Linked DNA regions of Homo sapiens: all the other regions are reported to be linked to region 3. Evidence: microRNA targets listed by miRTarBase, many of them from high-throughput screens and not tested one by one. Region 3 holds a microRNA gene; each other region holds the end of a gene's coding sequence.
Evidence for each region. The annotated mature microRNA hsa-miR-139-5p reads UCUACAGUGCACGUGUCUCCAGU and lies in region 3 at 1,577-1,599, opposite strand. An mRNA with a match to its seed (bases 2 to 7 or 8) in the 3' UTR can be bound and repressed. Matches are read on the target gene's strand: a 7mer-m8 pairs with bases 2 to 8, a 7mer-A1 pairs with bases 2 to 7 and ends in A, and an 8mer does both.

Region 1 (5,082 bases), not on the chromosome of region 3:
GAACGTGGTTCTAAGAAAAAGAGACCTCCCCTCACTTCTTTAGGGACGGCGCCTACCCTAGCCCGGCCCCTGTTAAAGTTCTGCAGCTTTGCGGCTCTTAGGAGGCTGCTCCCCCAGGAGGCGCCGAACACACCCGCTCCGCAACCGAGTCCTGAGGGTTCATTTCCTTAGAAACCTGGCTGCGCAGGAAGAAAGGCGCCAGAGCCTCCTCCTCGCCGCAGGCTCCGTCCCTCTCGTCTCCCACCCCCTCCCCCGTCCCGAGCTCCGGGGCCCCGAGCCCTCGGGTGGCAGCGAGAGGTACCCTCAGCCGTGAAAACGGACACCGCCCCTTCCGGGGCCTCCTCCCCTCACGCTCCTCTCTCCTCTTCCTCCCGCGCCCACCCCAGAAGGTGCAGGTGGAGCTGACCGTGCTGGACTACGACAAGCTGGGCAAGAACGAGGCCATCGGGAGGGTGGCCGTGGGGGCGGCCGCCGGCGGGGCTGGCCTGCGGCACTGGGCGGACATGCTGGCCAACCCGCGGCGGCCCATTGCCCAGTGGCACTCGCTGCGGCCCCCGGACCGAGTGAGGCTGCTGCCTGCGCCCTGACTCCCACCCCAAGCCCCCGGCCAAGCCTGGACTCTAGCCCCTGACCCCAGACTCCCGAGACCGGCCAAAGCCAAGCCAGCCCCACCCTTAAGCTTCCTCTGACGGTTACCCTCCCCCCACCTTCCACCCCAACCATCTGAACCATTCCTGTCTTCTCACCCCCAACGATGCCAATCACGACAACTTTCCAGCACACTCCCCCGACCCTCGCGGACACACCCAGATGCCCCAGGGACCCCGGGAAGGGAAGGCAGCCTGGTTTCTCCTGCCCCCGGGTCCTGCCCCCTGCTTTGACAATCAGCCATCCTCGTCTGCTCTCCTCTCTCTTCCAACACAGCCCATCCCTGCACTGCTCCTGGGGCCAAATAAATATTCAGCAGCTCCGGTGGCCTGGGCCCATGCTCCTTGATGGGGGTGGGCAAGGGCTGGGACCCAAGAGGAAACCTCGTTTCCAGGAATGGGCGCTCGCAGGGCGGTGTGAGTGCTGTTCGTCCTGAAAGCCTCTGAGAGACTGGCCTGACCCCATGGACTCCCTCACACTCTCACCCGTTCATTCCTCACTCACCACTCTGAGCCTGGGTTTCCTCCTCTGGAGAATGTTGGGATAATAATAATTCCTGCCACACGCTGGCTGTGAGGAGTCCGCGAGAACTCCCTTGCTTGTCCATGAATTTATCCACTCGCTTGCTCACCCATGACTCACATCGATTTTCATACCCATTTCTGCATCCCTCCCTCCCTCTCTTTTTTTTCTTCCTTCCATTCCATATTCCCTGAGGTCTTCTGTTGAGTGCTGGGGCCCCAGAATATCCAAACACAGACCTGACCCCCCAAGCGACTTACTGCCATCAAAACAAAGGAGAGGCGCGGAGCCAGGGAATACAATCTCCAGAGCCTGCGAGAGAGGTTGGAGTTCAGCAAGGAAAGCCAATGATTTCAACTTCACCTCTTTCTTTTTTCTTTTCTTTTTTCCTTTTTGTTTTCTTTCTGTCTTTCCTTTTCTTTCTTTTTCTCTTGTTTTTTTTTTGTTTGTTTGTTTTTTTGTTTTTGTTTTTGTTTTTTTGAGATGAAGTCTCACTTTGTCGCCCAGGCTGGAGTGCAGTGGCACGATTTCGGCTCACTGCAAGCTCCTCCTCCCGGGTTCACGCCATTCTCCTGCCTCAGCCTCCCGAGCAGCTGGGACTACAGGCGCCCGCCACCACACCCGGCTAATTTTTTTGTATTTTTAGTAGAGACGGCATTTCACCGTGTTAGCCAGGATGATCTCGATCTCCTGACCTCGTGATCCGCCCGCCTCGGCCTCCCAATGTGCTAGGATTACAGGCGTGAGCCACCGCGCCCGGCCCTTCTTCTTTTCTTTTCTTTTCTATTTCTTTTCTTCTCTTCTTCTTTTTTTTAATTTTGAGACGGAGTTTCGCTGTTGTTGCCCAGAATGGAGGGCAATGGTGCAATCTCGGCTCACCGCAACCCCTGCCTCCCGGGTTCAAGCGATTCTTCTGCCTCAGCCTCTTCTTTCTTCTTTTTTTGACAGGGTTTCTCTGTGTACCCTGGCTGGAGTGCGGTGGGGCAATCATAGCTCACTGCAGCCTCAACCTCCTGGGCTCAGGGGATCCTCCTGCCTCAGACTCCTGAGTAGCTGGGACCACAGGCACATGCAACCATGCCTAGCTAATTTTTTCTTTTCTTTTCTTTTCTTTTTTAGAGATGGGGTCTTGCTATGTTGCACAGGCTGGTTTCAAACTCCTGCAATCCTCCTGTGTGAGTAGCTGGGACTGTAGACATGAGCCGCCGCATCTGACCTCATTGTTCTTTCAACGAATGCTGCCTCCTACTCTGTTTCTAGCAAAGATGATAGTTCCATTGGCTTCTACCTTATCTCATCCCATACAGAATTTTGGGTGGTGAACAAAGACCTATAAGATTTGGCCAGAGAACTCTCTGAGCAGCAGATTAAGTGGAGAATGAGGCAAAAATTACCCCCACGTACCAAAAAAGGAGGCAGCAAACAAACTTACTTGCTCCTAAGCTTCCTGGTAGCCAATCGGGAAAGTGAAAATAGAACAGCTACACAGATTATAATATCCATGAGATTTTTAATTTTTCTCCAAAGGAATTCAGTAACTTTTCATGTGTGTGAGTGTGTGTGTGTGTGTGTGTGTGTGTGTGTGTGTGTGTGTGGCTGTAGAGCATGTCTTTATGAAGACAGCCCTTTATGTTACTACTATTACTGCCAATAATAATCCTCACAGCAAACTCATGAAATAAACATGATCATTATTCCCAGTTGACAAATGAGTCCAAACTGTGCTTTAGAAAATTTGGGGCTGGGCGTAGTGGCTCACGCCTGTAATCCCAGCACTTTGGGAGGCTGAGGTGGGCGGATCACCTATGGTCAGGAATTCAAGACCAGCTGGGCCAACATGCTGAAACCCTGTCTCTACTAAAAATACAAAAATTAACTGGGTGTCGTGGCAAGCACCTGTAATCCCAGCTACTAGGGAGGCTGAGGCAGGAGACTCGCTTGAACCCAGGAGGTGGAGGTTGCAGTGAGTCGAGATCGCGCCATTGCACTCCAGCCTGGACAACAAGAGCAAAACTCCATCTAAAAAAAGAGAGAGAGAGAGAGAGAGAGAATTCCTGTGAAATGCTCAGAATCACACAGCCAGAGAGCCTGTCTCTAAATCCTGGGATTGATTTAGATGATGGCAATGGGGTCCTTGGGTCTCTGTCTCAACAAGAAAGCAGAGCGATAGAAGAATAAAACCATTACAAATGGCCGTCCACACTGGGACCAAAACGTAAAAAGGCTGACATAACTTAGGGAGGGTGGTCAGGGGCAGCCTTGCTGAGGAGGTGCGGTCTGGGCCATGACTTGAATGACAAGAAGGAACGAAGCTTGCAAAGGTTAGGGAGAACAACAGTGGAATATTATTTGGTCATAAAAACAGAAGAAAGCATTGATTCATGCTTCAGCATAGATGAGTCCTGAAAATATTATGCCAAGTGAAGGAAGCCGGATACAGAAGGCTGCATAGTGCAGTATTCCATCCAAAAGAAATCTCCTGCACTGACAAATACATAGAGACAGAAAGTAGATTCGTGGTTGCCAGGGACAGAGGAGAGAGAAATGGGGAGATAAATGGGGTACGTGTTTTCTTTTGGAGTGATGAGAAAGTTCTGGAATTAGACAGTGGTGATGGTTGCACAGCATTGCAAGTGTACTAAATGTCATTCCCAATCAACTTAATAGTGTGTGTGTTTTACACCAATTTAAAAAGAAAACAAGGCCAAGCACGATGGCTCATGCCTTAATCCTAGCACTTTGGGAGGCAGGAGGATTGCTTGGGGCCCAGGGTTAGACACCAGCCTGGATAACCTCTCTATTTTTAAAATTTGTAAAGTTAGCTAGGTATGCTGGCACGTGGCTATAGTTCTAGCTACTTGGGGAGCAGAGGTGGGAGGATCGATTGAGCCCAGGAGTTTCAGGCTGGAGTACTCCAGCCTAGGCAACAGAGCAAGTCCCTGCCTTAAATAAATAAATAAATAAATACAGCCGGGCGCAGTGGCTCACGCCTGTAATCTCAGAATTTTGGGAGGCCAAGGCCGGCGGATCACTTGAGGTCGGGAGTTTGAGACCAGCCTGACCAACACGGAGAAACCCTGTCTCTACTAAAAATACAAAATTAGCTGGGCGTGATGGCACATGCCTGTAGTCCCAGCTACTCAGGAGGCTGAGGCAGGAGAATGGCTTGAACCCGGCAGGTGGACGTTGCAGTGAGCCGAGATAGCGCCATTGCACTCCAACCTGGGCAACAAGAGTGAAACTCCATCTCAAATAAGTAAATAAATAACAGCCTGGGCAACTAGTGAGACCCTTTCTCTACATAAATAAATAAATAAATATCCGGGCATGGCGGCACTTGCCTGTGGTCCCAGCTACTCAGGGGACTGAGGTGGGAGGACTGCTTGAGCCTGAGAGGTTGAGGCTGCAGTGAGCTATGATCACACCACTGAACTCAAGTCTGGATAACAGAGCAAGACTTTGTCTCAAAAATAAATATATAGAAAACAAAGATGAGGGGGAAGATAATTTAAGGCAAAAGAATCCCAAGTTGCAAAGGCCCTGGGGTTCAAACGGCTTGGTGTGTTCTCCAAGGAGCCAGGAGGCTGATGTGGCTTCAGGGGTGGATGACTGCAGATTGCATAGGGCATAGGGAGCCAAGCTAAGGAGCGGGGAATGTGTCCAGGTGCAGCGGGAAGACTTTGGAGGATTTGAAGAGGTGGGAGACATTATTTGATTTATGTTTAAGATCACTCTGGGCCAGGTGCAGTGGCTCACACCGGTAATTCCAGCACTTTGGGAGGCTGAGGCCGGCGGAACTCTTGAAGTCAGGAGTTCGAGACCAGCCTGGCTAACATGGTGAAACCCCGTCTCTACTAAAAATAAAAAAGAATCGCTGGAGCTGGGCACGGTGGCTCACGCCTGTAATCCTAG
Region 2 (5,082 bases), not on the chromosome of region 3:
TCTTACTTTATCCTTTTCTGAACTGGTAACATTTTAGATAAAGCACAGGTGTCTCTCTCTAAGTACAAGATGTCAGCATTCATGTCAATTCAGTGTACCGTGTCTTAGTAGGACATTGAAGAGACTTGGTAGCCTAATAACAACAGCATTTGCCAAAATGTTTGAGTGAAGAGTAGCATTTTGATTTAAATCAAATCAAACCCTAGAAAACTAAATCATAAGCAAAAAATGAAGAAAACACAAGATGGTCACTTAGAAGTATAAATCTGGAGGCTCAGTTCAATGCTGAGGTTTTATGTGAGCACATTGTTTCTTCTATGTGATGGTACTTAGTATGGGAATGAAGTTACACAAAACAACAGCAATTTGTTCAGCTTGAGACCTAATTCATAACTTAAAACCATAGTGATAAAAATTCTTTCCCCCTGTTTTAGAGAGGAACCTTAACCCCAAAGCAGCCTGCCTTAAGAGAAGGGAAGAAGAAAAAGTTTCTGCCGTATCGGCAGAGCCGCCAACCACACTGCCAGGAACCCATCCTGGGCTTAGTGAAACTACCAACCCTATGGGTCATATGTAAACATCAGCCAGGTAAGTACGGGTTTGAAAAGAAACAGCAAGGAAATAACCTTAAGATTCATCTTAAACTGGGTTAGAATCTTTGAACAGAATTCTCTAGTGAGCAGTGGCCATTGTAAAGGTCACATGTAATTTGAAATATAACAGTTTGTCTTTCTGTTACATTATCAGACTTAGAGAGCCAGTGTCATTTTATAGCAAATTGCCATTTTCTTCAAAGTGTGGCAGTATCTTGTGACTTTGGTTCTTCTGTTCGGAGTCATCATGTGTACTCTCTTACATGAGTATCTTCCTGATCCAAGAAGAAATAGTACAATGACTCAACCGTCAGAAAACGCTCTTGTTACCACTCATGTTCTTCATTTCTTTATTCAGAAATGCTGACTATATCATCAACCAGTTTTCTGCCAATTATCTAGCTTTTTGTCATGAAGCCTTTATACATGAAAAAGTTATCACTTGTATTTGGATCAATAATGCAAGTTTATGATATGATGCTTCTTCCCCACTTGCAAGCACATCAGTTAACACCCTCTAGAATCTATTAATGAATGGGAAGTTATTATATATGTTAGAGCCAGAATGCCCTTCTCTCTGGTGGAATTTTACTTGTTCAAAGACTGTTCTTTATATCTTCCTTTTCATGGACTAAACATAATTCAGTTCCTTGTGATTTTTTTTTTTTTTCCTCAAGACAGAGTCTCGCTCTGTTGCCCAGGCTGGAGTGCAGTGGCACGATCTCAGCTAACTGCAGTCTCTGCTTCCCAGGTTCCAGCAATTCTCCTGCCTCAGCCTCCCGAGTAGACTAGCTGGGATTACAGGTGTGCACCACCATGCCCGGCTAATTTTTGTATTTTTAGTAGAGATGGGATTTCACGATGTTGGCCAGGCTGGTCTCGAACTCCTAACCTCAGGTGATCCACCCGCCTCAGCCTCCCAAAGTGCTAGGATTACAGGCATGAGCCACCTCGCCCAGCTGGTAACTTCATTTTTATAATCTGCTTTCAGCAGTATGTAGTTTTTTTCCCAATTTTATCAACAGATTAAAGGTAGTAAGTAAAGGCAGATGAGTGCGGGGTGTGGAACAGAAAAAAATATCAAGTGCAGTTTCATTTGGTCAGTTTCGTGGCTGTCTCATTTTGAACTGAAAGTCTGGAATTTGATAGATTGTTTGATAGATAAACTACAAATATTAGTAACTCACCTTTTCCTGAGGGTTTTAGTTCCTACCGCCACTACATATATAGGGTCAAATGAGACTACATATAGGGTCAAATGAGACTACATATAGGGTCAAACCAGACCACAAAGAAGATTTCATTTAGGGTAAAAGAAAAGAAGAGTTAAGGCAGTTATTTCGTAAGTCAGTTATAACTGTAACATTAGCACACTGGAGAAAACCTCAAACTACCTCCCCCACAAAAAGTATCCAGCAATCTAACAGATTGTACATGTCAGGGACTTTAGGCAAGAGCTAGTTTACAGATCCTCTAAAACCTAGATCATTGTTTCATACTCTGTAGAAAATATAGACTACTATGAAACAGTAAGTATTTTTGCTTCAAAAATAAACTTTGAAGTTTTTTTGTTTGTTCTGGGATTTTTTTGTTGTTGTTGTTGTTTGTTTGTTTGTTTTGAGATGGAGTTTGACTCTGTCGCCTGAGCTGGAGTGCAATGGTGTGATCATCTCGGCTCACTCCAACTCCCGCCTCCTGGGTTTGAGCAATTCTTCCACCTCAGCCTCCTGAGTAGCTGGGATTACAGACATACACCACCACGCCCAGCTAATTTTTTTGTATTTTTAGTAGAGACAGCGTTTCGCCAGGCTGCCCAGCCTGGTCTCAAACTCCTGACCTCAAGCGATCCGACCACCTCGGCTTCCCCAAGTGCTGGCGTTACAGGCGTGAGCCGCTGAGCCCGGCCAAAAAATTAACTTTGAAGTTTTAAAATAAAACCATGCCACTATTTCTCAGTGCAAAAGAGACTTTCTAAACTGATAGATTATTTCAAAGAAGAGTGATGGGAGAGGTAACTTATGCTCAGGTCCCAGATAACCACCAAGCTGTGAAAAAGAGCACTAGGCATTCTGCCCTAACACTTCTCTTGGAGCCTGTGTCTTATTTTTCTTGTCTCGCTCTAGTTAGTTCTACCCATTTCCTCTTGTTTTCTTCTCAGTCTCTCTTACTCGTTCAACTTTGTCTTCTTATTCTCATCTCGTTTCCTTCTGTTTACTTCCTGTGCTTTTACTACTTCTCTATTTCATACTGCTCTCATAGCTCTACCTTTATCTCTTTATAATGTGGAAATTTTCCCACTTAGGTTAAAATTAAACTTTGGGCATTCCCACCTATCAAAAAAGGATCAAGAATTCTTTTAAGTTTAAAAAGGCATCAAGATATGAGACATGTAGTGAATGCACTTTGTTCCATAGATTGTATAGGCTAGTGTTTGTCATCTTAGAATATGTGTTAAGGTTGCTAATTTCATAAAGATAGTTATCTGGTTTCATAAATTGGATAGCAGATTAAAAGTAGCAAGAGACAGGGCAGCAGGAACAATGCTACTAGAATCAAAATGGCTAAGACATGACCACAGAATGACTGGTTATAAACGTACAAAAATTTGCCATCCTGTAATGTAGGCCAAGTAGCTTTGAATATCTTAGTTTTCCGTCCCTAAGAGCATTGCTGTGTACCTAAACAATACTGTGGTTATTGTTTAATAAGGAAGTAAAAGTTATGATTCTATCTAAAACTATTTTATTAAAAATTTAAAGTAGAAAATTTCAGAGTTACTGCTATATATATTATATTGGGAACATAAGTATGTATAGAATTTGTACTAATAGAGTAAAATATTCTTAATAAATAGCAAACATTTGTTGAGGACCTACTGTGGACCAGGAACTGGGACCAATATGAAAATGAATGCAAGGTAGCCTCTGACCTCAGGTGCTCTCAGTTTAGATGAAATAAATGTAAACTATTAACACTGTGGTTGAGTGGAGGCAGCAGCAAATTGAGGGCTTTACCATTGTCTCACTACTGAGGAATGAATGAGTAGCACCTCAGAGCTCAGTTATTGCCAACTTGAGTGTTATTAAAATGAAGGTTTGCATCATTGCGGCAGCTGTTTTATACGCCTATAGTTTGTGATTCTGTAATCGCATGATCTCCTTTAAAAATCTTACCATATAGCCGGGTGTGGTGGTGCACACCTGTAGTCCCAGCTACTCAAAGACTGAGGTGGGAGGATTGCTTGAGCCCAGGAGTTGAAGGCTGCGTTGAGCCATGATCATGCCACTGCGCTCCAGCGAGGGTGATAGAGCAAGACACTGTCTGAAAAGAAACAAACAAAAAACCTTACCATACACATCAAGTAAAACCATTTCAGTATACCTTAAAAGGAAAAAGTTCATTAAGTCACTTAGCAGACTACAAATTTAGTGCAGACCTGGATATAGATGAGGAATACCAGCATTTTTTTGTTGGTGGGAGGGGGAAGGTGTTTTATTTTTAACAATTATGTACTAACTGGTATTGTCCTCTCCCTTGGCTGTCCCTGCCACAGTTCCAGAGTTATCAGTAGGCTAGATAGAAGGTGACCTCTCCTCATAAGGACTTGGACAACTCAGATTATCTGAAGACACAAACCTGACAGGAGGGAGAAGAAAAAACAAAACACTTGAACCAAGAAACTCAAATGTAATCCTACGATCAAAGCAACTGGTCAACACTTCCATCAGAAGTGAAGATAGGAAGCTCATCAGATAGAACATCAGCCCATGAGATGTTTGCAACAAATCTTTTGTTGCAAGCAGTGTGTCGCTTCTGCACAATCAGAGACTGTCTCGATCTCTCCACTCACCGTGGAAGTTGCCTTGTGCCTAAACTGAATTGACAAATGCATTGTAACTACAAATTTTATTTATTGTTATGAAACTGTAAGGTCTACATATAAAGGGAAAAAGTTAATGTGGAAAGCTGATCTACACTCAGCTGATGCCAGCATACATTAAAGCGGTTCACGTGCAGAGAACAAAGCAGTGACAACCATTGGCCCTTAGCATTCCCGGCATACCTATTAGTGTCTTAAAAAGGAAGGGAAAAGTCTTTTGTTGCCCTCTCCTATCCTCTTGCCATATGAATAGCGTTTTCCATGAAATAGGAAAATATTACTTGGTATAGCATTTCTCTTGCTCTCATTTTTTGATTTATTTTTATTTTCTCTTTGTGGGTGTTATATTTGATCTCTAAATCTGAACAGTTTATGGTCACAGTCCAGCCTCCTCCGTGCAGCCCTGTGTGCTTTGCACATTTACCTTACAGTGGTAAGCAGAGACCATCTGTGACCATAGCCTAGCTAGCATTTTAAAAGGGGAAATTTTGTTCTCTAGGTTTTCCCCCAAATAAACATTGCTTTATTTCTAATAATAACCAAGACTTTTCAAGCTTCTAGATCTCATAGGAAAGCTTGTAATAGCAAAATTGTAAATTACAAGGGAAG
Region 3 (5,000 bases):
CCTCTGTCCCAGGCTGCACTCCTGTTCCTCTCCAGGAGTCTTGACGTCTTTTCCCACCTCCGCGTCCTCTCTTCCTCTCATAGCTTCTCCTCCCACTCTCCATCTCTCTCCTGCATACTTCCTGCCCCCACCTACTCCTGTGTCTCCAGCCCACTCCTCCCACAAACCTCCAAATAGTCACCTTGAGAACACTGGGAGAAAGCACCTAACTCAAGAGAAGCGCCCACAGAATGGGAAACCCAGGAAGGCAGCTAGAGGGGAAACAGGGGGTGCCAGGCAAGTGTCATCTACGCCTCTTTTGCTTCCTGCCTCCTGTTCCGGTGGGCAATATACACAGCCTCTTATCTTCCCAGAGGACAGGGCCCTTCAAGAGCACAGGAGAACGTATCGACCTCTGTGCCTAGCATGGGTCTGGCACTAGCAAGCACAGCCGCCCAGTCAGGGTGACTGGCAGAACTGCCCCAAAGGAGGCATCCTGTAGGCTCAGACCAGAGAAGCCCGCTTCAGCTGAGCCTCGGCCCCTGGCCTCAGCCCAGCACCCAAGCTGACTCTATGCCTCCTCGCAGCCTTACAGCACCCCCAGCCTGCAGAGTCAGAGACAAGAAAGCAGAACAAGGCGGTTCCTCCTCCTTCCTCCCCACACACCCACGCCTGCCACCTGGCCAAGGAGACGCCTCTCAAAGACACTGGTGCCTTGGATGTGCAAAGAGGAACTGCCTGTGAGTGCGAAGATCTTGCAGCCCCAGACTTCTCTCAATGAGGCTGAGCTGGATCAGGGTGAGGAGAATAGAGGAAAGAGGCTTGGCAACCCTTGGGAGGCTTAGTCTGAAGGAGGAGGCAAGACAGAGACCCAGAACGCAGCTGAACTAGCCCAACTGTCAGTGTCATGCTTGAGTGAGGCATCAGGCTTTGGGGAGGGGAAGGTACCTTTCCCAAGCACCTCCTGTGGCTAGAGGTTTCCACCAGCCGTTCCCCAATTTTCATGTGCACCAGAACCACCCAGAGTGCTTGTTAAAGTGCAGATTGCTGGCCCCACCCCCAGGGTTTCTGATACAGTAGGTCTGGGACGAGGTCCAAGAACTTGCGTTTCCAAACATTCCTAGATGACACTGATGCTGCTGGTCGGGGGACCACACCTCGAGACCCACTGACACTATCTTGGATCCTCCTACAAGCCCAAGAGGTGCCTGTTTGGGTCATCCCATTGTACAGGTGAAGAGGCTAAGGACTGGAGGGGAGGGGCCTTGCTCAGGTGAGAACAGCCAATGAGGGGACGCCCCAGGGAAGGTCCCAATGGAGGGGAGAGGCTGGGGGTGGAAGGACAGAGGGAGACTAGTGGTGGGGAGATATGGATAACAAGGCAGTATGGACGGGGCCACTCGCAGCGCAGGAGCCCAGTCTTAAAGGAGGGACCTGCCAGAGACCTTTCCTCCTCCCTCTTTCTCTTCCTCCCCTCCCTCCTCTACTTACCCCCTCCCGCTCCATGCCCCCATCCCTCCACCCTCCTGCCCACCCTTCGCAGACTCCGGCTTCAGTTGTTACTCCAACAGGGCCGCGTCTCCAGCCTCCGAGCCACACTGGAGACACGTGCACTGTAGAATACACCTGAGCCAGTCCCAGTGCCTCCCAAGGGTGTCCCCATCCACAGGAGCCTGACCCCACACTGTTGGCTCCTCCCTTCCAGCGCCCACAACCAGCTCCGCCCCGGCCTCTCGCCCTTCCCAAGCCAGTCCCAGCTTCTATTCCAGCTCCTGCCTCCTCCAAAATGACCTCCCGGTTGTCCCCCGCACCCTTGGATCCATCAGGAGCTAGGTTTGGGGGTGGATGAAGGAATGGGAAGAGGGAAAGAGCAGGAGAAGGCAGGCAAGAGTTGCCTGCACGATCAGTTCCCTGAGGGCCTGACTCACTGGAATCACCTCAGTCCCTCACCCAGAGTCTGGAGTCAGGAAAGGAGGGAACAGTCAGAGTGGGTAGAGGGAGGGAGGCAGGAGCTGAGTGTGGGGAGGGGGAGGATGGCCCTGCAAGGCAGACATCAGATCAAGCGGGGCAGAGCCAGCTCAGGTCTCCTCCCACCCCCTCCCACCTTCAGCTGCTTCATCTACAGGGAAGAACCGAGAGTGGTCCCATTTCTGCTGCCCACATTCTCCTGGACACCACAAACTTCCTCCCAAACACATCACAGCATCCCCCTCTCCATGCCATCACAGTCATCCTGGTCACCTGGCATTCTAGCTATCCTTGTCCTCTGGCCTGGGGCCCACGAGGCAGCTCGCGGCAGTCACAAGGAGGCAGATTTGGGCACACTGTGAATCAGAGTCGCGCCACAAAAGAGAGCCTGAGCAGGATGGATGAGGGGGCTCCTAGTCCCCAAGGGTGTGCAAGCAAGGGCCAAGGCCCTGCCACCAGGGAGCCTGTGCCCTGAGAAAGGCCCCTGGTGAGGTGGCAGGCCTCCAGCTCTGAGTTTGGTGACCCTGAATGTCTGTACACCCTCCTCAGCCTCACCCCCTCAGGGTGGGTTGGGAGCTGAGCAAAGCAAGTCCAGGAGCCTCCAAGAGGCAGGCATGGTGGCTCAAGCAGGAGAGGAGGAGGACGCTGAGTGTCCCGCTGGGTCAGTGTCAGAAGAGAGTTTACATCCCTCAGGAAATGATGGCCAAAGGAATAATTGAATGGGTGGATGGATGAATGACGAATGAATGAATGGAGTGATCTCCCTTCTCTGGATCCCCTCCAGGGAGAGTCTGTTGTTGTTCTCTCTCCAGGCAAGTCTGACCCTCCCACCTGGGGCTCCCACTGCCCCCCTTTCCCCCACCATGGCATGCACTGTGTGCATCAATGCAGTGCCACCCTTTCCCGTCTGGCTCCCACAACAGACTGGGAGCTTTTGGAGGGCAGAGATTGTGTCCTGCCCCTCTCCAGGTCTCCAGCATTACCCAGCCCCTCATAGGTGTTGGTAGGCGTTTGCTGAGCTGTAAATGACTGGGTAAACTCCTGTGTGCCCAGGACTACTGTACTGTGAGGGCTACATGCCATCAGGGAGAAGAGGGGTGTGGAGGAAGGATCTAGGCAGGGGAGATAGCTGAGACCTCTCAAAGCCTCCCCAGTCTGGCACAGTTACAGTCTCAGAGAAGGAGCCTGAGGAATGGGGTGTCTCCTACTGAGAGCCTTTGGCAACCTCTCCCAGGCACCTCTGCAGGCCGGGAGGCCCTTTGTGCTTCAGGATCATCTCCACGTGCAGACCGGGTGGGGGCAGCAGGTCAGGATGGAGGGCTCTTCCCCAAGAGGAGCACTGTCACTATCACCTTCTTTCATGAGTGAGGACACCTCCTCCAGGAAGCCTTCCTGCGTGGTCACCTGTCCCCCTCCCAGGCCTTCTGAGAATTCCCAGGGACCAGGGGCTACAGGGCCTCAGGCCTCATGTAGTCCAATCCCAAGCTTGATGGGGTAGACTAAGGCCAGAGGAGGCAGGGAAGGATTCACCCAGGCTCTCATCTGGAGCCAGGAGACCCATGCTTCAGCCCAGCCCTTTGGGCCACACTAGGACACCTTGTCCCAGAGTCCTGCTTGTCTTTGGGGCCCCTCTAATACCTGCCTTGGCCAGGGGATGGGCTGAGCCCTCTCAGATGTCGGGTAAGGCTGAGTATCTGCCTCCAGGCCAGAGACTGGGTCTCTTATGTCCTCACTGTGCCCATTGTGTGTGGGAGGTAAATGCTGAAGGAGGCGGCCTGGCCTAGGGTTAGTGTGGGCCTGCAGAGGGCGGGGAGGAAGGGCCAGCCTGGGGTAGGGCTGGTGGGGTGGATGGCGGGAGGCAAGCCCAGCCATGCTGGTCTTCTTAGGGACAAGATAGAGAGCAGGGCACAGAGGCTGGCTGCCCGGTGATGCCTGCCCTGGGGCTCTCCCTGACTGTCCCAGCGTGTTTTCTCCCTGCCTCTCAGCCTCCCTGGGCGCTCTCTCTGTGCCTGGCCACCTCTCTCTGTCTGTGCTCTGCGGCATGTGTGTATCCCACAGCCTCCCGCTGCTTTGTCCTATGACTGTATTTGGCTCTCTCAACAGAGCTTGGCCCATCCCAGCTGTTCCCCAAACCCCAGGGGGAGGGGGAAAGTGGAAGTATGAGAAAGAGAGACAGGGACAGAACAAGTACCAATTCAGAAGCAGAGGGATAGACATAAGAGCCGGTAGGGAACCCCAGGGACAGGCGGAGGCTGGAGAGGCAGGGCTGGCTGGGGAAGCCCCTGAGGAGAAGTCCCTGAAGACCAAGGCAGAGTTGGGAGAAGAGCGGGGTCCACCCTCTTCCTCTGCACTGACTCCTGCCCCCTTTCCCTCTCTCTGCCCCTGCAGGAATGTGTGAGCACTTTTATTGTTCCTAAAAATAGCCTTTCTCTTTGGGGGGTTGGGATAAGCAATCTTCTGAGTGGGGTCCGTCTGGGGCACGCCTGCCCTCCGGGGTCCCAGCCACCATGCTCCCCAGGGCCGGGGTCTCTCAGCTCCTCTCTCCCAGCGCAGTGCTTTGTTAAACATAAATGTGACCCTGTCCCTCCCTTGCACAAGACTGTCATAGCTCCTGGGAACACCCCCTCCCCTCCTCCAGAGTGACAGGCTCCGAGCAAAGTGCTCAGCACACAGCCTGGAGCAGGGCTCGTGGTCACCTTACCTCATCAAGGAGCTGAGGGTGAGGAGCTGCTCGCTCCCTCCATCCAGGCACTGCCTGCTCTGGCCTCAGGCCTCTTCGCAGCGCCCCAGTCTGATTCCCTGCACCCCTCCAGCCTCCCCACTCCCAGCCTTTGCTCCTCCGTTTCCTGCACTGTGGTGTCCTCTCTTCTCTCCTGCTCTTCCTGCTCTGGCCCTCCAGAAACCCCCAGCCCTCTCCCCTGGTCTTGTCCTCCCCCTATCACTGGGACTCTCATCCTTCTCCCGTCCCCCTCACAGAGCAAGCAAGGGGCTGAGCCACAGGGCCCTGGGCAGGTGGGGCACCAAGGCACAGAGCCCTCCTCCAGTGAGGGAGA

Region 1: miRTarBase lists SYT5 as a target of hsa-miR-139-5p. Seed matches in the 3' UTR shown: 8mer at 2,359-2,366 and 7mer-A1 at 2,767-2,773.
Region 2: miRTarBase lists TCF12 as a target of hsa-miR-139-5p. The part of its 3' UTR that is shown has no 7-base or 8-base seed match.

Annotation. Positions count from the first base shown.
Region 1 is chr19:55,168,989-55,174,070 of GRCh38, reverse strand. It overlaps SYT5 (synaptotagmin 5), which reads left to right. Exons shown (of 9, transcript NM_003180.3): 9 at 387-2,875. The coding sequence ends at 587. Among named protein-coding and RNA genes, the nearest start is that of DNAAF3, 4.9 kb to the right of the region's middle.
Region 2 is chr15:57,282,011-57,287,092 of GRCh38, forward strand. It overlaps TCF12 (transcription factor 12), which reads left to right. Exons shown (of 21, transcript NM_207037.2): 20 at 435-588; 21 at 4,147-5,082. The coding sequence ends at 577. Among named protein-coding and RNA genes, the nearest start is that of SNORD13D, 5.9 kb to the left of the region's middle. RefSeq lists an enhancer at 2,769-2,828.
Region 3 is chr11:72,613,526-72,618,525 of GRCh38, forward strand. MIR139 (microRNA 139) reads right to left here and starts at 1,605; the gene lies at 1,538-1,605. All of the region lies in intron 2 of PDE2A (phosphodiesterase 2A), which reads right to left. LOC105369377 (a long non-coding RNA gene) reads left to right here. Exons shown (of 4, transcript XR_001748292.2): 2 at 567-777; 3 at 1,104-1,212. RefSeq lists enhancers at 513-612, 4,856-5,000.